Homo sapiens: one gene and its partners. The protein of the gene in region 4 purifies or fractionates together with the protein of the main gene of each other region. This does not show direct contact. Each region holds a gene or a part of one and is shown on either strand. Other genes may lie near its edges.

Region 1 (2,366 bases), on a different chromosome or scaffold from region 4:
AGCCTAGGGCTGCTGTCTGCCCTACCCCTCAACACATACACTGCACACACACACAAACACACACACACACACAGCCATCCCAACAGTATCAGTCATTTCTGTCCTCTTCCTGATAGCATCTGTGGTAGGCAGAATAATTCCCCTTCTCCAAAGATGTCCATGTTCTAATCCTGTGCATTGTTCTTATCTTACATGGGAAGAAACTTGGTGATTAAGATTTTGAGATGGGATGATTATCCTTGGTTATCTAGTTAGGCCCAGTGTAATCCCAAGGGTTCTTGAGGAGACAAGGAGGTCAAATGTGGAGGTAGGAGTTGTGACAATGGGAGCAAGAGATTGGAGTGATGTGTGGAAGGAGGAACAAGCCCTACTGACATCTGACTGCTGACCTCCGAACTGTAATAGAATAAATGCATTACCACTAAATTCGTGCTAATAACAGTAATAGGAAATTCAAATACCATCCTTCTGATTTGGGGAACAAAGGTGACTAACACATATTTTATTATAAATATTTATTTTAAAAAATTTCTTGGCAGTTAAAAGGAAGTGGCATAATGAGCAGGACAGGACAGTTACCGGCTCCCCCTCAGATGCCTCTGGCTGGCTTCTCACATTCTCCAAGATCCAGCCTCTAGGCTCCAGTCTCGGCTACCTCTGCTGGGCGGTAGCTCACACCCCCTTTGGTTCCCCTTCTGTGTGTACACAACAGGAAAGGCTAATCAGAAAACTGGCCCAGGAGCAGCTCATTTGCATGCGCTTTGCATGAAGTGACTCCACAAGGGTGGGGGAAGCTTGTGCCTGAAGAAAGGGTCAGTGTAATACCTGTGCTGCCTTCTCATCTGCACAAGGAACGCGACGCTGGTGACAGCAAAAAGGAGGCCAAAAACCAGGGCTAGGATGTCACCTGCGATGGAGAGCAGAGAGGGCTGCTTTGGGAAGGAAGAGGGGTCTGCAGAGTTCCTCAACACCTGCCTCAGTGCACTCCACCACCCCTGCCCCGAGTTCTCAGGCAGCCCCTAGTGCCTCAGTCTCCAGAAGAGGCCAGCCAAGGGATGAGGGTGGATACACGAGAAGGGGTAAGATAAGCACCGTTTTTGCTTCCTAAAAGCCAAGTAAAAGGGCCGTTTGGGGCCAGGCACAGTGGCTCATGCCTACAGTCCCAGTGCTTTGAGAAGCTAAGGTGAAAGGATTGCCTGAGCCTAGGAGTTCGAGGCTGCAGTGAGCTATGATCGTGCCACAACACCCCAGCCTGGGCAACAGAGTGAGACCCTATCTTTAAAAAAAGGGGGGGGATTGTTTTGCGAGAGGGATGCTGGGAGATTTCTCAAGCTTCATTCTAATCAATTAGCCTCTGGGGACAATGGGGGAATCCCCACCATGATCTGCCTCTCTAATATTGGGGTTGGGGTCTGTTCTGCAGAAAAGGAGAGGGAGCAGAGGCGGTCCTGAGCAGCCCTGGGGCTGAATGGTGCTGAGGAGTCTCCTGGCATCAGGACCAAGAGGAGGGGCAGACTCACCAGCAGCCAGGCAGGAATTCAGCTGGACTGGAGAGAAAAAGGAGATGTGAGAGGCGGGCTGTGACCACCAATGACAGACACTGGCACACACATGGGAGGATAAGGGACTACTGGCTGGGGGGAAACCAGACAAAGCTGTACCTGGCTCAGCAGCCCGAGGACTGCTGTCCACTCCAGCAGGGAAGGAGGCCTCAATCACTCGCCCATTCAAAGGCTGCGTCGCTCGGAAGTTCAGCTGTAGCCGAGAGTCACCAGGTCCCCACAGGGTGTCAGAGAGGGTGTGGAGCTAGGGAGGTCAGTGGACAGTGTGGGTGGGTTCATGGCATGACAGGAAACAAGGGTCCCAGGCCAGCTCACAACCAGCACCTCAGGGCTCCACCCTCCAGCTCCTGTATTCCCCATCCAGCCTCTTGATTTCTTTTATAAATAAATAAATGTATCCTAAAGATGGTAGGCAGTGGTGGGATCATAGCTCACTGCAGTCTCAAACTCCTGGAATCAAGCGATCTTCCCACCTCAGCCTCCTTGAGTAGCTGGGACTAGGCGCATACCACCATGCCCGGCTATTTTTGGTTTTGTTGGGGTTTTTTTGGTAGAGATGGGGTCACACTATGTTGCCCCGCCTTGTCTTGAACTCCTGGGCTCAAACCATTCTCCCACCTCAGCCTCCCAACGTGGTGGGATTATAGGCGTAAGCCACAGAGCCCAGCCTTGATTTCTTTCTTCTCCTGTTTCTCATCTCATCTTACATCCTCTTTCCCCCGCACCCACTGTGTCCACACACACCCCAGGCCCACCTGCTTAGCACTCAGCATCACTGTCTGGTTAAACACAGTCCAGATGACA
Region 2 (2,438 bases), on a different chromosome or scaffold from region 4:
CAAGTAGCTGGGATTACAGGCACATGTCACCACGCCTGGCTAACTTTTGTATTTTTGGTAGAGACGGGGTTTCAACACATTGGCCAGGCTGGTCTCGAACTCCTGACTTCAGGTGATCCACCCGCCTCAGCCTCCCAAAGTGCTGGGATTACATGTGTCAGCCACCGTGCACAGCCAATGTGCCTTTTTGAAGAGGGAAATTATAGTGCAATTTGTTTGCTTTTAAAATGATGCGATGGTTGTTCTTAAAATCAAGTCCTAATTCCTTAACAGTATTTACCCCATTGGCTGAGCAGGCTCCTGACCACCTCCTCAGTTACCCTTTGCTCACTACAGTTCGGTCACACCTGACATCTTCCCTCCCTGTCAGTAAGCTCTCTTTCCTCGGGACATTATCACATCCTATTCTCTCAACCTAGAATGCCTTTGCCTTTCTCTTCCACCTGCTACCTCCTCGTTCTTTAGGTTCCAGCTAGTTGTCACTTCTGAGACTTCCCTGGTTCTACTCTAAATCACTTCCCACCACCACCACCATTTTCCTCCAACAGCATCTCCTTTTTCTTCAAAAGCACACATCACATATGCAGTCACTAAATGTGTGTGTATATATTCATATTACTTTTGTTTAAAAAAAATTGGTAACCTCACACCAGCTAGAATAATGCCATATTTATAACAAGCACTCAACAAATGTCAGTTAAATGGAGCAATGACTCATTTATATTCTGTTTTCAGAGAATTATATACGTGTGCTTTTTTATACATCTCTGTTTTTAGAGAATTGTGGGGCTTTAGACATAACATCAAGGCAAACGATTGCAAGGCAAAAATTTTTTGTTTTTTTGAGACGGAGTCTCGCTCTGTCACCCAGGCTGGAGTGCAGTGGCGCGATCTTGGCTCACTGCAACCTCTGCCTCCCAGGTTCAAGTGATTCTCCTGTCTCAGCCTCCCAAGTAGCTGGGACTACAGGCAACCGCCACTACGCCTGGCTAATGTTTTGTATTTTTAGTAGAGACGGGGTTTCGCCATGTTAGCCAGGATGGTCTCGATCTCGTGACCTCGTGATCCACCTGCCTCGGCCTCCCAAAGTGCTGAGATTACAGGTGTGAGCCACCGCTCCCGGCCAAGATTTTTTAATACATACATACATACATATATATAACATACATATATATAACATACATATATATATATATATATATATATATATATATTGTGTGTGTGTGTGTGTGTGTGTGTGTGTGTGATTATTGGTTTAGGGGCTCATCTTTTCCACTCGGCTGTCATGTCTGCCAACTTTGTCTAGCTCGGTATAGCAGATGTCTAACACATAGAAGGCACTCAATGGACATTTGATGCATGAATTAAAGTGCCAGGTACTATGCTAGGCGATGAAACTGCAGAGGTGACAGGAACTCTGTGAGAGGCTCAGTTGAATGGGAGAGACCAAATCAATGACAATGCAACGTGCAAAGAGTTGCAACAGGTATGGACAAAAAGATAAGGGGGCTCAGAAAATGGAGCTGAACACGGTTCATAGATGGGGCAAGTGGGTTTCAACACAGCTAGAAGGAGCACAGGCAGGAGGTAAACCTGTGACTAGCCACTAGTAAAAGCCCCAGGATCCCAGCAGTGGGTTTGCCTGCTGCCGTTCTAAAGACATGCCCGTCTCTTTAGCATGTGACTTTTCTTTCCTTCATGAAAAGAGAATCAGATCTCCCCATCTGGGAAAGGAATTTCAATCAGCTGAATAATCAAACCTACTAAACAAATAAACTTGCAGGCATTCTCCCACAGAACATCCCTCCCCAGGATTTTCCTCATTGAGAATTACCATCACCAAGATAATATACTCTTCTCTGTCTGATGTTTTAAGTTCTATTATTTAGAGAGCTCTAAGATCTTTGTCTCCCTCTCCTGGCCACACAGGCTAGTGGGTTGGAAGGAAACTTAACAAATAGATAAGATTGCCCCAGGGTATATACCAAGCATATTTCCTAAGCAATGTAACAGAGATGTGCTTTTTCCCCTTTAAAATGATATAGTCTGCTGTGAAAGTTAGCTGAGCTGGCTTTAATCCACTCAAGACTTTGCCACTGGCTCTTTTACCCTTTTATTTTCATTTTATTTTTTATTAACTCTTTTTTAAAATAAAAAAGTAGTGATGAGGTCTCACTATGTTGTTAAACTCCTAGGCTCAAGTGATCCCCCTGCTTCAGCCTCCCAAGGTGCTGGGATTACAGGTTTGAGCCACCATGCCAGACTTTTTTTTTTTTTTTTTTTTGAGATGGGGTCTGGCTCTGTGAGTATAGTCTTTTTCTCTTGTAGGAAGCCCAGCCGGTTGTTACCAATCCATAGTACTTTCCCTGACCTCCCCAGGTCTAGGCAGAGACCCTTTTTCTGCCCCTTCTGCAAATGACCATGTTAGTTTTGTTTTT
Region 3 (3,500 bases), on a different chromosome or scaffold from region 4:
AGAATGGTCAGCATTACTTTTCAAACCTCAGATTCTGTATCACTAAAGTGGGAGTAACAGACATATCTCACAGGGTTGTTGTGAAGATCAAATGAGTTAATGGATAAGAAGGGGTTGTGTAAAATGTAAAGTGTGATGCAAATGTGAGTTTCTATTATGAATAAGATTGTGCTCAAGTTGGTGAAGGCTGGGCTGGTGCATTCCATTCATTTGGTCTTGGGATCCCAAGGTCCACTTGAACTACAGGTGAGGGTGGGATGCCCGGCAAGACCCCACAGGTGATACCCAGCAGAAGCGAAGGTGGGAGAATGAACCTACCCCCAGCGCCTGTGCCCAGCCCCTCGCCTGGCCCTTAGTGTGTACTCAACACATACTTGTTGAGCGAATTGATAAATGGTGTTTTGGAGGAGACATGGGCAGAAATGAGTAAGGGCAATGGCATGTGAGACATTTCAGTGGGAGAAATGAGAGACCGGGTGGCTTAGGGAAAACAGCACAAGTTTGAGAGCCAGATGACCTGGGTTCAAAGATTCAGTTTCTTCATCTGTAAATGGGGATAATAACAGTCGCAGGCAGATGCTATGAGGATTCAGTGAGATCATGTGTATGAAGAGGCTGGCCTTTTATAGGCACCCAGTAAATGGTAGTGGCGATGATTACTATGATTAAGATGGGAGGGTGCTTTCTACCTCCTAGCAGAGACTATTCAGAGGCTGCCGGCCCTTCACCGCCCGTGAGGCGGGGTGGTCTCACTCTTCCTCTCCACCTGCTCCAGAGTCTGCATGGGTCTGGCTGTCCAGGTGGTTTGCCTGCGGGGGCTCAATGAGTGGGGAGCATGACCTCCCCACATAGGAACCCAGAGCTGCAGACCTTGCTTCAGAAAAAGACTCATGGTTTGGGGAGTCTAGCCCAGGCCACTAAACAGACCACTTGCAAAAAAAAAAATAGCCAAAAATTTCAAGGGGGGCTGAGTCAGAAAAGAAGAGCCCTTTGGAAGAGGAGGTGATGGGTGATCTTGCTTCCACACCAACCAGCAGGCAGCGATCCCTGAAGTATGTTCCTAGGCTGCTTTCAAAGGGTCTAAGTTCCGGTAGTGTGTTTGCGGGGAAGGGAGTTATTAGCATCTGATTCCGCTGAACCCTACTATCCCAGCCCCCGTCCCCAGGATTTCCCCACTTCCTCAGTGGTACCTTTCTTCCTGCCACCCAGCCCACCCCCATCCTTGTTCCTGTCCTCTCCCTACCCCTCAGCCTCCATATTCAGTTGTTCATCAAATCCTATTGCTATTTCCTTCCTTCCTTCCTCCCTCGCTTCCTTCCTTCCTTCCTTCATGTCCTTCTGTCCTGTCCATTGCCTCCATACCTCCACCCACCCTGTCCCATTGCCTCCCTCTTCAAGTCTTATCTCATGTTTGGACTATTGCAAAAATTGATCTGCTGGTCTCCAGCCATGCCCCTCCAACCCAGCCTAAACTCCCTGCTCCGAAACCTCTATCTCCCTCATTTCCAGGAGGATGAGGCCCAAACTCCTTATTTTGGCATTTTTGTTTTTTTATCCTCTGGCCTTGTATTGGTGGATTCAGGAAATCTGTTGGCTGGGTCCCTCCACACCATCTGGGCTGGTCTGTTCTGCACCCACCAAACAAGCCTGAGTCTCTGTTCCCACTTTCCTCCTTACCTGAGGTGCCCTGACTCATTTCTGCCTTTCTAGATCTGCCCATCCTTAAGACCTGTTGAAGTTCCTCCTCCAACCCTCTCCTTCCTCTCCCACTCTTTTCCCTTCTCCTTCTTGCCTATGAAGCCTTTCCTGACCACCTTGAAACCCTGAAGGATTTCTCTTTCTCCCAGGATCTCCATGTGCACCCCTCCAGCCTGTACACTAGTGTTGGCTTTGGCCATTTTTCTTTGGGAGGAAAGCGGCAGGGGTGGTGGAAGTCCTTCAGAGAGCAACAGGTAGGTGACTCAGGACCAGCTCTGCCCCTCTGGGCAGACTCACTGACAGATGGAGCACCAGATACTAGGGAGTCCCCTCTGACACAGGCTAACAGAGGAAAAGCCTCCCTTGCTTTACTGGAATACCAAATCTGTCTCTTTCCCATGCCATCTGCCCATCCCAGGAATAGGATGCTGAAGGGGAGAAGGCTCTGGGAGCTTTCACAATCCTGAGTTTGCATAAAGAGGAGAACCCAGCAGCCAGTCAGAGTCAGAAAGTTTTGTGTAGAAGAGAACTTGAGGACCACATTTGTCCAATTGTCTCATTTTGCAGATAAAGAAACTGCACTTGATTTAACTCCAGTGTTCCTATTCGAAGGGGCTTCAGACCTTCCAGGGACAAAGCTGATCTCAGGACAATGTTTTCCCCTGAGTGGCACTCAGAATGCCCCTTTCTGACCACCCTGGTGACCTTGCCACCCCAGCTGATGGGACAGGACCTCTGGGTTCTGTTACTCCTCTTGAGGGCTCTGGTTCCCTCCTGGCCTTGGTTTCCCAAGAATATGATGGCCAGAGTTGCAAATCTGCAGCCACAGGAACTGCCCCAGCTCCTGCTGAGAAGGCGCCCTCAACATACTTCCTAATTCCAAGAATAGGGGTTGAGGTGGGGTGGGACGTAGAAGACAAGGGTACTTCATCCCCAGCCAGCCCTTCAGGTGAGGGCAAGAGGTGGAGGGAAGGGGGATGGGAGTGGTGGAAAAGGGTGGGTGGCATGGTGGGGAGGAGGAGTCTCAGAGAACTAGCAGGGATGGGAGTCCCAGGGAATCCTCAGAGAGGGTGTCTCACGATGCCAGATGCTACATTAGGGGCAGGAAAGTGGAAGAGGGAGCAAGAAAGAGAGCCAGGTATAGGGAACATAACAATCTGATCCCCAGTTAAACAAACAAACAGCCATGATAAGTGATGTCAGCATCGCTGGAAAAAAAAGTCAAGTGCCCTATTGCCAGAGGCGTGTATCTACAAGCCCTGCCCCCACCACCCCTCCACTGCCTTCCATCCCCCTACCGGGCCAGGGATAAATAGCAGGTGCCATGTGATAATACTGAGAAACAAAAGGGTGACCCTGCCCCTCCTCCACTGTGCAGGGAAGGGGGGCAGGTCCTAAAGAGCTGGAGGGACTTAGAGGGGGTCTGTAGGGTTTAAGGGGAGTAGGGGGTGAGCCAGGAGAGCAGAGGGCAGGAGATGTGGGTGCATGGGCCACTCCCATGCACTGGCAGGAGAGTGGGTCAAATCTGGAGCAGAGGGGATGCAGGGGTCGTGCGAGCCGGAGTAGCTGGGAGAGGGGAAGCAAAGAGAAAATAGACCCTGCAGGGAGGGCACAGGCTGGAGCAGATTCCCTCTTGAGATTCTCCAGGATTTCTCCTCCAATGAGCTCATGCCAAAGCACGCCCCTGGTACCTTCTCCCAGTCACATTTCTAACCAGGTCTCTGTCAACACCATCCAAATATTGTAGGCAGAGATGGGCTTGGGCAGAGATGGGCTCAGGCAGAGACAGTGCCCGAGTGGAT
Region 4 (3,500 bases):
CCCCACCCCCGTCCACCTCAACTTTGGTGCCCCTGCCCCGCAGCAAGCCACTGTCATCCGCGATGGAGACAAATTCCAGATCAACGCTGACCAACTGGTGGTGGGCGACCTGGTGGAGATGAAAGGTGGGGACAGAGTGCCCGCCGACATCCGCATCCTGGCGGCCCAGGGCTGCAAGGTGGACAACTCCTCGCTGACAGGGGAGTCTGAGCCACAGACCCGCTCACCCGAGTGCACGCACGAGAGCCCTCTGGAGACCCGCAACATCGCCTTCTTCTCCACCATGTGCCTTGAGGGTCTGTGAAGCCCCCGCCTGCCTGCCCAGTAACTGCTGCCTCCACTGGCCTCTCTCCTGCTATCTTCTAGGACAGGGGGCTTCAGCCTCCCTGTCTCTCTCCTGCATGACTGCCACCTCCCCGTGACTGCCACCTCCCCAGGGCACACTGCTTCTCTGTCTCCCACTGTCACTACCCTCTCCCAGGTCACATCCTCCACTGGCAGTGACTGGCTGTCCTTCAGCTCACACGGCAGTGCACACCCCACTGCCGCCCCCTATCCCTGAGTCGCGCCTTGGCCCCCCTGCAGGCACCGTGCAGGGCCTGGTGGTGAACACGGGCGACCGCACCATCATTGGGCGCATCGCATCGCTGGCGTCGGGGGTGGAAAACGAGAAGACACCCATCGCTATCGAGATCGAGCATTTTGTGGACATCATCGCGGGCCTGGCCATTCTCTTCGGTGCCACATTTTTTATTGTGGCCATGTGCATTGGCTACACCTTCCTGCGGGCCATGGTCTTCTTCATGGCCATCGTGGTGGCCTATGTGCCTGAGGGGCTGCTGGCCACTGTCACAGTGAGTGGGGGCAGGCGGGGATGCAGGGAGCTGAGGGGCCTGCTCAACCATCTGTTCTTTCCTCCACATTTCCCCCATCACCTCCCTGCCTGTCTATCTGTCCACTTAGCTCCCATCCATTCTCCTGCCTTCCCATCATCCACTCATTCAGCAAGTCCTTCCCGAGGCAACCCTGGGGCAAGTCCTGTGCCACACATTGAGGGCGCAGAGATGACGAGGCCGGGTCCTTAACTGGAAGAGGCTGATGTCCTGTGCAGGCAGCCAGCATGTCACCAGACCTTCCACAGTCAGCACCCAGCTCCAGACCAGTCCCCAGGGAGGTGCGGGGAAGGTTCCTCTTCTCATTTTGATTGTGTGAAGAGAATTTTCAGAACCTCGGCTGGGACAGCTCAGAGAGGGGCCTCGCTACTGTATCTGGGCAGACTGGGGAAGGAGTCCCAAACAAAGCACTGGCTGAACAAAAGCTGGGGCCAAGAAAACACCTGGTGTTTGCAGAAGCACGTTGCACACGCAGCCCCGCGGCTGGGGTAAAGCCTTCCCCGTTCTTTGACGCGGGGAAGAGGACTGGAAGCCAGGGTGGGTCCCCAGCCTGCGGTGCTCACCCCTTCCCCAGGTCTGCCTGTCCCTGACAGCCAAGCGCCTGGCCAGTAAGAACTGCGTGGTCAAGAACCTGGAGGCGGTGGAGACATTGGGCTCCACTTCGGTGATCTGCTCGGACAAGACAGGGACTCTCACTCAGAACCGCATGACTGTGTCCCATCTGTGGTTTGACAACCACATCCACACAGCTGACACCACGGAAGACCAGTCAGGTGTGGGGGAGGGAGGGCACAGGCGCCAGGGCAGGATCTGGTGGATGGTGGAGACCTGAAGAGGGATAGGGAGGTAGGGAGGGCTTTGTACGAAGGCGGGGCGGCTCGGCTCCAGGTCTCAAAGGAGACTCGCTACCGGGTCTAGAGGGAAGGGTCATCCGGGGGCTGGGTCCCTCAGGGTTGGGTGGAACCCAATTCCACCCAGGTCTGGGGAGGGGGCCCGCGATATGAGCCTAGGAGGAGGGGGCTCGGTTCTGGTCCGGGAGAGCCGCCGTGCGGGACCCAGCCTGGACGCCTGGTCTGCAGGGCAGACGTTTGACCAGTCCTCGGAGACGTGGCGGGCGCTGTGCCGGGTGCTCACCCTGTGCAACCGCGCCGCCTTCAAGTCCGGCCAGGATGCAGTGCCTGTGCCCAAGGTGAGAGCCAGGGGGCCTCCAGGGAATCCCGGGAGGCTGGTGTAGCCGGCTTCGCCCCTGACACCGGTCCCCGCTCCCAGCGCATCGTGATTGGAGACGCATCGGAGACGGCGCTGCTCAAGTTCTCGGAGCTGACGCTGGGCAACGCCATGGGCTACCGGGACCGCTTCCCAAAAGTCTGCGAGATACCCTTCAACTCCACCAACAAGTTCCAGGTGCGCAGCCGGCCCCGCCCACGGCCTGGGCCCGCCCACCTCGGGCCCCGCCCCAGGCCACACCCACATCAGCGGGCCACGAGGGGCTTCGCTCCTTGCCCCTTCTCTCCGCAGCCAAACCCCACCCCATCTCCCGCTCCGCCTATGGCCCCGTCCACCAGAGGCAAGGCCCCGCCCACCACCCAGCCCCGCCCACAGCTTCTCCTCGGCGGGACTGTCCATGGGGAGCACCTCGCTCTCCAAATCCGCCCCCAGCCCAACTCCGCACCCTAATTCTGTTCATTCCCTGCGTCCAGGACTCCAAATCTGCACCTAGCCCCGCCTTAACGCTTACCTTCTACCAAGGACCCCTCCACACAAGGCCTCCATCTTCCACCTTCACCCTTCCCCGCAGCTCTCAGAGCCCGCACCGAGCTCTCGGCCCCGCCCCTCTCCTCAGCCCCGCCCCGTTCCCTCGTCCACAGCCCCGCCCCGTTCCCCCGTCCACAGCCTCGCCTCTCCCCCCCGCCCACAGCTGTCCATCCATACGCTGGAGGACCCGCGGGACCCGCGACACTTGCTGGTGATGAAGGGCGCCCCCGAGCGCGTGCTGGAGCGCTGCAGCTCCATCCTTATCAAGGGCCAGGAGCTGCCGCTGGACGAGCAGTGGCGCGAGGCCTTCCAGACCGCCTACCTCAGCCTGGGAGGCCTGGGCGAACGCGTGCTCGGTGAGACCCCTGGGCAGGGGAGGAGACTCCAGGTGCGAGGAGGAGCTAGCACAGACCCTGCCCACCACTCCCGGCCCAGCCCTGACCGTCCTCATCCCTGGCTGCTGGCTGATTTGTCGCAGTCCACAGCCTCACCCTTGACTTTCCCTGTACCAGTCCTGACCCCTGTCTGTCCTCACTTTCTACCTTGACCCCAGTCCTCACCTGGACTTTTATCCGTATCCTGACCTCTAACCTCTCCCAATTTTTGTCCTGACGCCTTAAACTTCGCTGCCTCTACCCTAGAAAGCAGATCTGTGGTCCAATTCTGGGCCTTTTACTTGCTGTGTGACCTCTGGCAAGAAATGTCCCCTCTCTGAGCCTCAGTTTCCTCATCTGTAAGATGAGAATGGGCCTCACAGGGTGGTTGTGAGGGTAGATTCAGATAATGTGAGTGAAGGGGTCAGCACAAGGTCAGGCATCCATAGGTGTTTGGTGCAAGGGGCCTGGTTATTTT
Region 5 (3,500 bases), on a different chromosome or scaffold from region 4:
AAATTAGCCAGGCGTGATGGCACACACCTGTAGTCCCGGCTACTCGGAGGCTGAGGCAGGAGAGTCGATTGAACCTGTGGGGGGCGCAGCGGCAGTGAGCCAAGATGGCACCACTGCGCTCCAGCCTGGACAACAGAGACGCCATCCAAAAGAAAAAAAAAAAAGCAGACATGAATGGAATCTAGAAGATAATCACAGGCTATGAGGTTCCCCAGGACTGGACGCAGCCTGCAAAAAACATGGGACCCTGTTCTGGCCTCTGAATTGTGCCTGTCATGTGGAAGACCTCAGTGGTGTTGGAGGAAGCAACAAGTGAAATAGGGAAAAGGTTAACCAGGATTTAGCTCATCGTATTGGGAAGGAGAAGAGAGGTACTGGTGACAACCACGAGACATGAGCTAAAATTACACAAAGAGCTCAGGTAACTATAAAAAGAGGTGACTGGCTCTGGGGAAGCCAAAATCAAAACAAACCTAACAAGTTGCAGAAGATTATAGAATAATGACCAGTGTTTAAAAGACAGAAAGAAAAAGAGACTATGCAGTTCGGCCATTACCTGCTCGGAATGGGTGATACTAGTTTGGGGTCTCTATATTCCCTTTATGTTTCACTTAAAATTTATTATGAAAATTCAAATCTATTCAAAAGTAGACACAGAAGTATAATAAAACTATATTTTATGTACCCGTGACTCCAACTTCAGCTTCAGTAATGATCAACGTTTTGCTGTTTCATTATACCCACTTCTTAAAAAATTACTTTAAGTTACATCCCAACACCCTGTCTCTCAGGTGACATTTCTGAGGCCTCCACGGCTCTATGGTTCTACCGCGTGGGGGTATCATGTGCAGGACAGTAAAACTGACTGGCATGTAGGCTGCATCTTGCCAACTGCCCAAAGGTTTAAACAAAAGGAGGCAACCTGAATATTGACTTGAAGCATCCAACTCAGCATAATACTTAATTATCATGCAAGAAAAACGCCCATATATTCAATTTGCAAATATTGAGGATATGCAAGTCAGCTCCAGCCTCAGGGGATATGATAGTAAACAAAAGAGAAAAAAATAAAACCCTGATCCCAATGAGGCTTCCACACTGCTAAGTTTTGGGACCAGAGACAAAACATACTCTGGAGTTAACCTGACTCTCCTTAAGTCACAGGCCTATTTGACATGAATCACAACCTAGCCAGAGAGCAGTTTCTATTCCCCTTTAATTGACAAATTCTTTCCTTTTTAAAAAATGGCATTCAGAGGTCTCTCATGATACTGGTGCTAGAGAAGGAGTTAACTTTCTGGTTCTCTAGACTTCTGATGATGTACCCCAATAAATAAATGCACCCCTCACATTAAATGCTTTTATCTATAAACCATATACAAGTATTTTCTGACCATTAGAAAACACACAAATATGAATTTAAAAGATGGCCAAAAAATAACTATCCATAGAAGTTCTAATGTTTCTATTCTATTCTACAATCTAATGGATGGTCTAGGCAGCCACTATGGGGCATACACCCCACTCTGGAGACAGTCCTTCCATCTCCTGAGCAGCCCTGCAGCCTCTTTGGTGGCTTGCCTGCCTTGTGTCTCCATCTGTTCCCCACCATGGGCAACAATGCATGAAACTGCTAATGGAGGCACCCTGAAATGCGTGCCACACCTGGGAGGCAGAGGGACAGTGCCTGCAAAAGCCTGCAAAAAGGGACTGTCACATCAAAGAGGGAGGAAAAGACACTCAGCATCACCCAGTGATGAAGGGAAGCATGCCAGAGAGAGCAGGACGCTACTGGTGACCGTCGCCTGGCCTGCCTGAGAGGGTGAAGAGACTGAGCCGGCCTCTCTGCAGGACAGAGAGGCTTGAGGCCGAGACCCACGCCAGGCTCCAGGGCTGGCCTCCTCTGAAGGTCTGTCCTGGACACCCTGAAGCTTCAGCCCTGACCCCAAGGACAAGGATCTTCACCCTGCCTGAACTCTAGGGAGGTCTTGGCATCGGCAGAGTTTGCCTCTGACTCACATCAGGAGAGAAAAGCACAGACTGGCTGTCTTCAGAGTCTAACCTGGGAGTCTGGGCTGCTCAGCCACCCCCTCAAGAACTCAGTTCCGTCCACTGTGAGGTGCCTGGCTGGGCTGCTTGACAGATAAGGTCCCCCGCCAGCTCCCCATCCTGGGATGCCTCAGAAGCTTGCCTGAGGCGCAATGTAGGTAACTGTCCTACAGAAGGAACAATGAGCCATTTGACCATTTCACTAGTGGCACAGAAACAAGGGGCAATTTGAACACAAGAATACCAGGTAAAGGAAGACTACAGTAGAGTTATGTAACATTAGCTGGAGCTCAACACTAATCTCCTCCCCTCTCACACCCTGCAAAGACCACAGCCACCTGCTTCTCCAACACAAGTGAAACTACACGGAAAGAAACACCTCAGATGTACTCCGAAACACAAACTTCACTCAGTGAAAGCACAGGCTTAGGTCCACAGACTTTCGATGCCTTGATCTTGGCTATAAGATCTACGTTTTGCACAGTATCAGAATAGACAAACCTGGAACATTACAATGTATATTCTTGTTAGGGACCACCTTCTATGGGACATCTGACCATCGGAACCTGCCCTACCCTCAATCCATCATTAGATAATCTTACATGCTTACTAGCGGTAAGGCCCTGTATTAAACGCTGCTGAAAACACAGAGATGACAATGACTAGGTCTCCCATGTGCCCAGAGCTTAGAGTGTGGCTGGGGTGCCAATCTGTGGAAGCCAGATATGCACTCATGAAAAGATGCACGTGGGACAGAGGCTGGGATGCTCATCAAAATATTTAATAGCCAGTACGGCCAGACACCAACCAGCCAGAAAAGACACAGGCCAGTGCACCAAAACAGGGCTCCAAAGTTCCTCTACTGCCCCATGTATTAACCCTTTAGTTTCCATATGAAGGGCGGGGGCACTTGGGTAGCAGCTATTCTCTAGCCAGGATGGGAGTATTTCGATATTTTAACCACTAGCATGATCGCTGGTGCATCTACAGCTGAATGACAGTGAGTGTAGGTGAGGAAGGGGAGAGTCACTCCAGGAAAAGTGCCTCTGAGGAGCAGGGCTCTGTGGGACAAGGAATGGCATTCCAAATAGGCCAACATGGGCATCGTACCATTTAGATGTACTTTTTTTTTTTTTTTTTTTGGAGACAGAGCCTCACTCTATACCCCAGGCTGGAGTGCAATGGCACGATCTTGGCTCACTGCAACCTCTGCCTCCCAGGCTCAAGGGATTCTCCTGCCTCAGCCTCCTGAGTAGCTGGGATTACAGGCGCCTGCCACCACACCTGGCTAATTTTTGTATTTTTAGCAGAGACAGGGTTTCACCATGTTGTCCAGGCTGGTCTCGAACTCCTGACCTCAGATGATCCACCTGCCTTGGCCTCCCAAAGTGCTGAGATTACAGGCGTGAGCTACCACACCCAGCCTAGATGTACTCAACACAAACTTTATC
Region 6 (3,500 bases), on a different chromosome or scaffold from region 4:
TTTTTTTTTTTCTTTTTTTTTTTTTTGAGACAGAGTCTTGCCCTGTCACCCAGGCTGGAGTGCAGTGGCGCAATCTGGGCTCACTGCAAGCTCCGCCTTCCGGGTTCACGCTATTCTTCTGCCTCAGCCTCCCAAGTAGCTGGGACCACAGGCGCCTGCCACCACGCCCGGCTAATTTTTTGTATTTTTAGTAGAGACGGGGTTTCACCAAGTTAGACCAGGATGGTCTCGATCTCCTGACCTTGTGATCTGCCCGCCTTGACCTCCCAAAGTGCTGGGATTACAGGCGTGAGCCACGGCGCCCAGCCTGTTTTTTTTTTTTTTTTTTAAAGACAGAGTCTCATTCTGTCGCCCAGGCTGGAGTGCAGTGGTGTGATCTCAGCTCACCACAAGCTCCATCTCCTGGGTTCACGCCATTCTCCTGCCTCATCCTCCCGAGTAGCTGGGACTACAGGCACCCGCCACCACACCTGGCTAATTTTTTGTATTTTTATTAGAGACAGGATTTCACCGTGTTAGCTACGATGGTCTCAACCTCCTGACCTCGTGATCCACCTGCCTCAGCCTCCCAAAGTGCTGGGATTACAGGCGTGCGCCACCGTGCCCAGCCTCTCTCTCTTTTTTTAAGAGATGGGGTCTTGATCTGTCACCCAGTGCAGTGGTGTCCTTGTAGCTCACTGCAGCCTTGAATTCCTGGGCTCAAGCAATCCTCCTGCCTCAGCCTCCTGAGTAGCTGGGACTACAGGTGCATGCCACCACACCCAGTTAACACTATAATTTCAATTTCCTTTTTTTAGGAACTTTAGTTTATCTGACTGACCAACATGTCTTTCATACACTTTAAGTAATTCCTAGAATTTTAACAAATTAAAATCTTCACTGTTCCTTGAAAAGGCCAAATTATCTTAAAACATTAAAAATAAGATTCCTAACATGTACAATTTCTTCAATATAAAAAATTAACAAGCTGGGCACAGTGGTGCTCGCCTATAGTACCAGCTATTCAGGAGGTCTGAGGCGAGAGGATTGCTTGAGCCCAGGAGTTCGAGGCTGTGGTGAGCCATGATCACGCCTGTGAATAGCCGCTGCACTCCAGCCTGAGCAACACAGCAAGACCTTGTCTCTGAAAAAGATTAATTGTATGGCAACCCACAGAGTGGGAGAAAACATTTGCAAATATAAGAGATTTTATTCAGAATATATAGAGAACTCCTAAACCCTAATAAAACACCCAAAAAATGGACAAAAGACATGAACAGACATTTCTTCGGAGAAATTACAAAGAATCCAATAAGTACCGCATAAAAAATGCTCAACATCAGTAATCATTAGGAAAATGCAACTCAAAACCACAATGTGATACCATTTCATACCCATTAGGATGACCATTACCGAAAAAAAGAAAGGAAAAAAATATTGGCAAGGATTTGGAGAATCGGGATTCTGAGGCATTGTTGGGTGGGAAAGTAAAATGGTGCAGCTGCTGCGGAACGCAGTATGGCGGTTCCTCAGAAAATTAAACGCAGAATTACCGTATGATCCAACAAGTCCACTTCTGAGTATAGATCCAAAAGAACTGAGAGCAGAGTCTTTTCTTTCTTTGAGATGGAGCCCAGGCTGGAGTGCAGTGGCGCGATCTTGGCTCACTGCAACCTCCGCCTCCTGGCTTCAAGCAATTCTCTGCTTCAGCCTCCAGAGTAGCTGGGATTACAGCTGCCTGCCAACACACCTGGCTATTTTTTGTATTTCTAGTAGAGATGGGATTTCACCATCTTGGCCAGGCTGCTTGAACTCTTGACCTCGTGATCTACCCACCTCAGCCTCCCAAAGTGCTGGGATTACAGTTCTGAGCCACCCCACTTGGCCTGGGTCTAAATCTCATCTCCATCCTTCCTCTCAAAGATTGCCACATCATTGGACTGGATGGTGCATTTCTTTGGTTTTTAAATTGCATGTATGTGTTCCTGCCTAGCTCTAAAGATGGACAGATTTGTTGTGACTGCAATATTTTTGCATTTAGTAAGGTTACAACGTATAAGTACATCTCAGTCACCTATAATTGGGTTCTGAATCTCTCCAACTTTATCTGACTGTAAGTCACATTGTGGAAGAAGGCTGTTCTCATGACATACATCCCTCTCTGGCTGGCGTTTTGCAAACATACCTTCAATCTTAGTCTTGAAGTGAGGGTATCTGTTGAGAATCTCCACCTGCTTCTTCCAGTCAAATTCATTCCGCCAGTAGGAGATGACTTTCTTCAGGTAGTTGGAGTTGAAGCCATAGTGGAAGCAGCTGTCCTCCAAAGGTGGGGTGAAACGGAACTTATCGATCCTCTGGTGTAAGTCCTGGAGCAAAATTCAGGACCCCAAGTTGAGAGGGATGGGAAGGACAGAGCACAAGAGCAAAGTCTGTTTCCAGAAAACACAGCAAACCCTGCAGCCACAAGATACTGCCCTCTGGGAGTGGCAAGGCAGTTTCCCACATCACTGGCTACTCCCAAAGCGGATGTGTTCTTCACTTCTTCCTTCTTCACTGTAGACTTCGCATTTCTTTTTTCTTTTTTCTTTTTTTTTTTTTGAGATAGGGTCTCACTCTGTTGCCCAGGCTGGAGGGCAGTGGCGTGATCTCGGCCCACTGCAACCCCCACCTCCCAGGTTCAAGCCAGTCATGCCTCAGCTCCCAGAGTAGCTGGGATTACAGGTGTGAGCCACCATGTCCGGCTAATTTTTGCATTTTTAGTAGAGACGGGGTTTTGCCATGTTGGCCAGGCTGGTCTTGAACTCCTGGCTTCAAGTGATCTGTCTGCCTTGGCCTCCCAAAGTGGTGGGATTACAGGTGTAAGCCACTGCGCCCAGCTCATCTTTTACTCTTTAAGTGTATACACGATACTCATCTTTAATTTACCCAGGCGTCTCTACAGCGGGAGTCGGCAAACTTTTTCTGTAAAGGGCCAGATAGTAAATATTCTAGGCTTTGCAGGCTGCAGTGACTCCACTGTCTTCATAGTGTGAAAGCAGCCACAGCCAATGCACAGATGAATGGGGGTGGCTGTGTTCCAATAAAACTTTATTTATGGACAGCCATAGCCAATGCACAGATGAATGGGGGTGGCTGTGTTCCAATAAAAATTTATGGACACTGAAATCTGACTGCTATATAATTTTCACGTCACAAACTATTATTCTTCTTTTGATTTTTTTCCCCCTAACTATTTAAAGAGGTAAACACTATTCTTGGCATGGGCGCTGTGCTAAAACAGGTAGCAGGCTACATTTGGTCTATGGGCCTGGTTTCCTGACCCCTGATATACAACATTGAATGATACATTATAACTGAGTTGGGATAAAAATTACAGGCCAGGCCCAGCACGGTGGTTCACGCCTGTAATCCCAGTGCTTTGGGAGGCCAAGGCAGGTGGATCACTTGAAGTCAGGAGTTCGAGACCAGCCTGGCCAACATGGCGAAACCCCATCTCTACTAAAAATACAAAAATTAGCCAG
Region 7 (2,706 bases), on a different chromosome or scaffold from region 4:
ATGACTGTCCTGTTTCATTTCAGACATACCGGCAGATCAGGTTAAATGAGTTATTAAAGGAACATTCAAGCACAGCTAATATTATTGTCATGTAAGTAATATCTTTATAAAGATTTTCTTGCTAATTTATGATAATATGCTTTGAATTAATTTCTATTCCAAGTACATATCTATATAACACCCATATTGACTTAGTGGTTATAAGGAGGAAAAAACAAACTTGTAAAAATATACTATGCTTTAAGCATATGGAGAAAGACAAAAACTTTAACCTTATGCTTATATGAATCCCAAGTAATCTTTTTATCATAGTAGGTTATATTGGAACCTTTTGTTTACCCTTCTTCTCACCTTTTTAAAATTCCTTATCTTTGTAAACACTACAGCATAGCCGTTAAGCACGTGTGGATAGGAGGGTCCTACGTTAAAATTTGGGCCCCGGACAGCTTCCTCTTGAAAATAATTCAAAAAATGTTATTTGGCAGATTAAACTTGAATAGTGATTCCTATCTGGATCCCCATTCTTATGTTTCCAACACGCAAATTTTACATACAGACACATTGTCCTTGAGTTAAATATGATACTAAATGCCTACTTTGGCTCTTCCTCTACTGAACTAGGTTAGCTATTCTTTGAACCCACATTTTCTGAGTTCTGGAACATGTGTCCTTAGATAGGAAAGCTCAGGCCTCTCCCCCACAAAAAAAGCCAAGTAATGAAAAAAACTACCAAAAGATTGTTAGTTTAACAACATTCAATAAATCAAAAAGTTTCAAGTTTTGCTGATGATAATCAAATACCTGTAAATGGAAAAGACACCAAAACATAGAAATTTAGAGAAAAACTATACAGCAATTGGTCACTGCTGCCACCATCCATAAATAGAAATTAAAACTAAGAGAAGATAAAAATTGCATTTATCCATATATAGCTTCTGTTTTCTAAATTTTGATAGTAAACATACCTTTCACCTAAAAGAATTCTATTCTTATTAAAGAAGGGGAAACCTAGGATTTAGTGTTAGATATCAGAGGTACTGTGGTTTATAGAAATACTTACTGTTCTTATGAACAAATTTTGAAAAATCTTTTGTTGAAAGATTATAGTCTTTTATATATGCATATATGATGGTGGTACCATAAGATTATAATACCATATGTTAAGCTGGGCATGGTGGTGTGCACCTGTAGTCTCAGCTACTTGGGAGACTGAGGTGGGAGGATTGCTTGAGATCTGGAGTTTTGGAGTTTTGAGTCCAGCCTGGGCAATGTATTAAGACCCCATCTCTCTTAAAAAAATATATATATATTTTTACTGTATCTTTTCTGTATTTAGATATGCAAATGCTTACCATCGTGTTACAGTTGCCTATAGTATTCACTACAGTAACGTACTATACAGGTTTGTAGCTTAGGAGCAACAGGCTGTGTCATATAGCCTAGATGTGTAGTAGGCTATACCATCTAGGTTTGTGTAAGTACTCCTGTGATGTTTTCACGAGGGCAAAATTGCCTGACAGTAAGTTCTGAGAAATGCGTCTCCATCGCTAAGCAACACAACTGTGGTTGTTATTCTATTTGCAGAATTCTCCTGCACTCAGAAATATTCTGTAATTATAGTAATTTACAGTAACTGTTATTGTAATCTACTTTATAATTTTTGCTACATTTTATTCTGTAAATGCATTGCTCAGGGTTTTTTTTTTTTCTTTTTCTCTTTTTGATACCAGGAGTCTCCCAGTTGCACGAAAAGGTGCTGTGTCTAGTGCTCTCTACATGGCATGGTTAGAAGCTCTATCTAAGGACCTACCACCAATCCTCCTAGTTCGTGGGAATCATCAGAGTGTCCTTACCTTCTATTCATAAATGTTCTATACAGTGGACAGCCCTCCAGAATGGTACTTCAGTGCCTAGTGTAGTAACTGAAATCTTCAATGACACATTAACATCACAATGGCGAATGGTGACTTTTCTTTCACGATTTCATTAATTTGAAAGCACACAGGAAAGTTGCTCCATTGATAACGTGTATGGAGACTTCGGTTTTAGTCAATTCCATATCTCAATCTTAATGGTGATTCTTCTCTGTTGAACTGAAGTTTGTGAGAGTAGTTTTCCTTTGCTACTTGAATAGCAATAAAAGCGTGTTAACTTTTTGATTGATGAAAGAAGTACAAAAAGCCTTTAGCCTTGAGGTGCCTTCTGAAATTAACCAAATTTCATCCATATATCCTCTTTTATAAACTTATAGAATGTCAAACTTTGCCTTCAACTGTTTTTATTTCTAGTCTCTTCCACTTTAAAACAAAATGAACACTGCTTGTCTTCTTCCATTGACCATTTAGTGTTGAGTACTGTATGTGTTTTGTTAATTCTATAAAGGTATCTGTTAGATATTAAAGGTGAGAATTAGGGCAGGTTAATCAAAAATGGGGAAGGGGAAATGGTAACCAAAAAGTAACCCCATGGTAAGGTTTATATGAGTATATGTGAATATAGAGCTAGGAAAAAAAGCCCCCCCAAATACCTTTTTAACCCCTCTGATTGGCTATTATTACTATATTTATTATTATTTATTGAAACCTTAGGGAAGATTGAAGATTCATCCCATACTTCTATATACCATGCTTAAAAATCACGTCATTCTTTAAACAAAAATACTCAAGATCATTTATATTTATTTGGAGAGAAAACTGTCCTAATTTA

The links.
Region 1: the proteins of ATP4A (region 4) and CA9 purify together in Homo sapiens (affinity purification with mass spectrometry, with the first as the bait; one study listed by BioGRID). This does not show direct contact.
Region 2: the proteins of ATP4A (region 4) and KCNE2 purify together in Homo sapiens (affinity purification with western blotting, with the first as the bait; one study listed by BioGRID). This does not show direct contact.
Region 3: the proteins of ATP4A (region 4) and SLC26A9 purify together in Homo sapiens (affinity purification with mass spectrometry, with the first as the bait; one study listed by BioGRID). This does not show direct contact.
Region 5: the proteins of ATP4A (region 4) and ACSL1 purify together in Homo sapiens (affinity purification with mass spectrometry, with the first as the bait; one study listed by BioGRID). This does not show direct contact.
Region 6: the proteins of ATP4A (region 4) and EPHX1 purify together in Homo sapiens (affinity purification with mass spectrometry, with the first as the bait; one study listed by BioGRID). This does not show direct contact.
Region 7: the proteins of ATP4A (region 4) and SLC12A2 purify together in Homo sapiens (affinity purification with mass spectrometry, with the first as the bait; one study listed by BioGRID). This does not show direct contact.

What each region holds. Positions count from the first base shown.
Region 1 is NC_000009.12:35,679,294-35,681,659, reverse strand, and holds the end of CA9 (carbonic anhydrase 9 precursor), read right to left. Parts: coding exon 2,318-2,366; intron 1,807-2,317; coding exon 1,662-1,806; intron 1,548-1,661; coding exon 1,521-1,547; intron 908-1,520; coding exon 826-907; intron 696-825; coding exon 635-695; 3' UTR 501-634; downstream 1-500. UniProt on the Homo sapiens protein: Catalyzes the interconversion between carbon dioxide and water and the dissociated ions of carbonic acid (i.e. bicarbonate and hydrogen ions).
Region 2 is NC_000021.9:34,367,006-34,369,443, reverse strand, and holds part of KCNE2 (potassium voltage-gated channel subfamily E member 2), read right to left. Parts: intron 1-2,438. UniProt on the Homo sapiens protein: Ancillary protein that functions as a regulatory subunit of the voltage-gated potassium (Kv) channel complex composed of pore-forming and potassium-conducting alpha subunits and of regulatory beta subunits.
Region 3 is NC_000001.11:205,936,957-205,940,456, forward strand, and holds part of SLC26A9 (solute carrier family 26 member 9), read right to left. Parts: intron 1-3,500. UniProt on the Homo sapiens protein: Ion transporter that can act both as an ion channel and anion exchanger.
Region 4 is NC_000019.10:35,557,159-35,560,658, reverse strand, and holds part of ATP4A (potassium-transporting ATPase alpha chain 1), read left to right. Parts: intron 1-43; coding exon 44-296; intron 297-585; coding exon 586-854; intron 855-1,467; coding exon 1,468-1,666; intron 1,667-1,972; coding exon 1,973-2,082; intron 2,083-2,162; coding exon 2,163-2,297; intron 2,298-2,811; coding exon 2,812-3,004; intron 3,005-3,500. UniProt on the Homo sapiens protein: The catalytic subunit of the gastric H(+)/K(+) ATPase pump which transports H(+) ions in exchange for K(+) ions across the apical membrane of parietal cells.
Region 5 is NC_000004.12:184,815,969-184,819,468, forward strand, and holds part of ACSL1 (long-chain-fatty-acid--CoA ligase 1), read right to left. Parts: intron 1-3,500. UniProt on the Homo sapiens protein: Catalyzes the conversion of long-chain fatty acids to their active form acyl-CoAs for both synthesis of cellular lipids, and degradation via beta-oxidation. Preferentially uses palmitoleate, oleate and linoleate.
Region 6 is NC_000001.11:225,830,624-225,834,123, reverse strand, and holds part of EPHX1 (epoxide hydrolase 1), read right to left. Parts: intron 2,346-3,500; coding exon 2,165-2,345; intron 1-2,164. UniProt on the Homo sapiens protein: Biotransformation enzyme that catalyzes the hydrolysis of arene and aliphatic epoxides to less reactive and more water soluble dihydrodiols by the trans addition of water.
Region 7 is NC_000005.10:128,184,766-128,187,471, forward strand, and holds part of SLC12A2 (solute carrier family 12 member 2), read left to right. Parts: exon of another isoform or gene 1-23; coding exon 24-91; intron 92-1,730; coding exon 1,731-1,866; 3' UTR 1,867-2,706. UniProt on the Homo sapiens protein: Cation-chloride cotransporter which mediates the electroneutral transport of chloride, potassium and/or sodium ions across the membrane. Plays a vital role in the regulation of ionic balance and cell volume.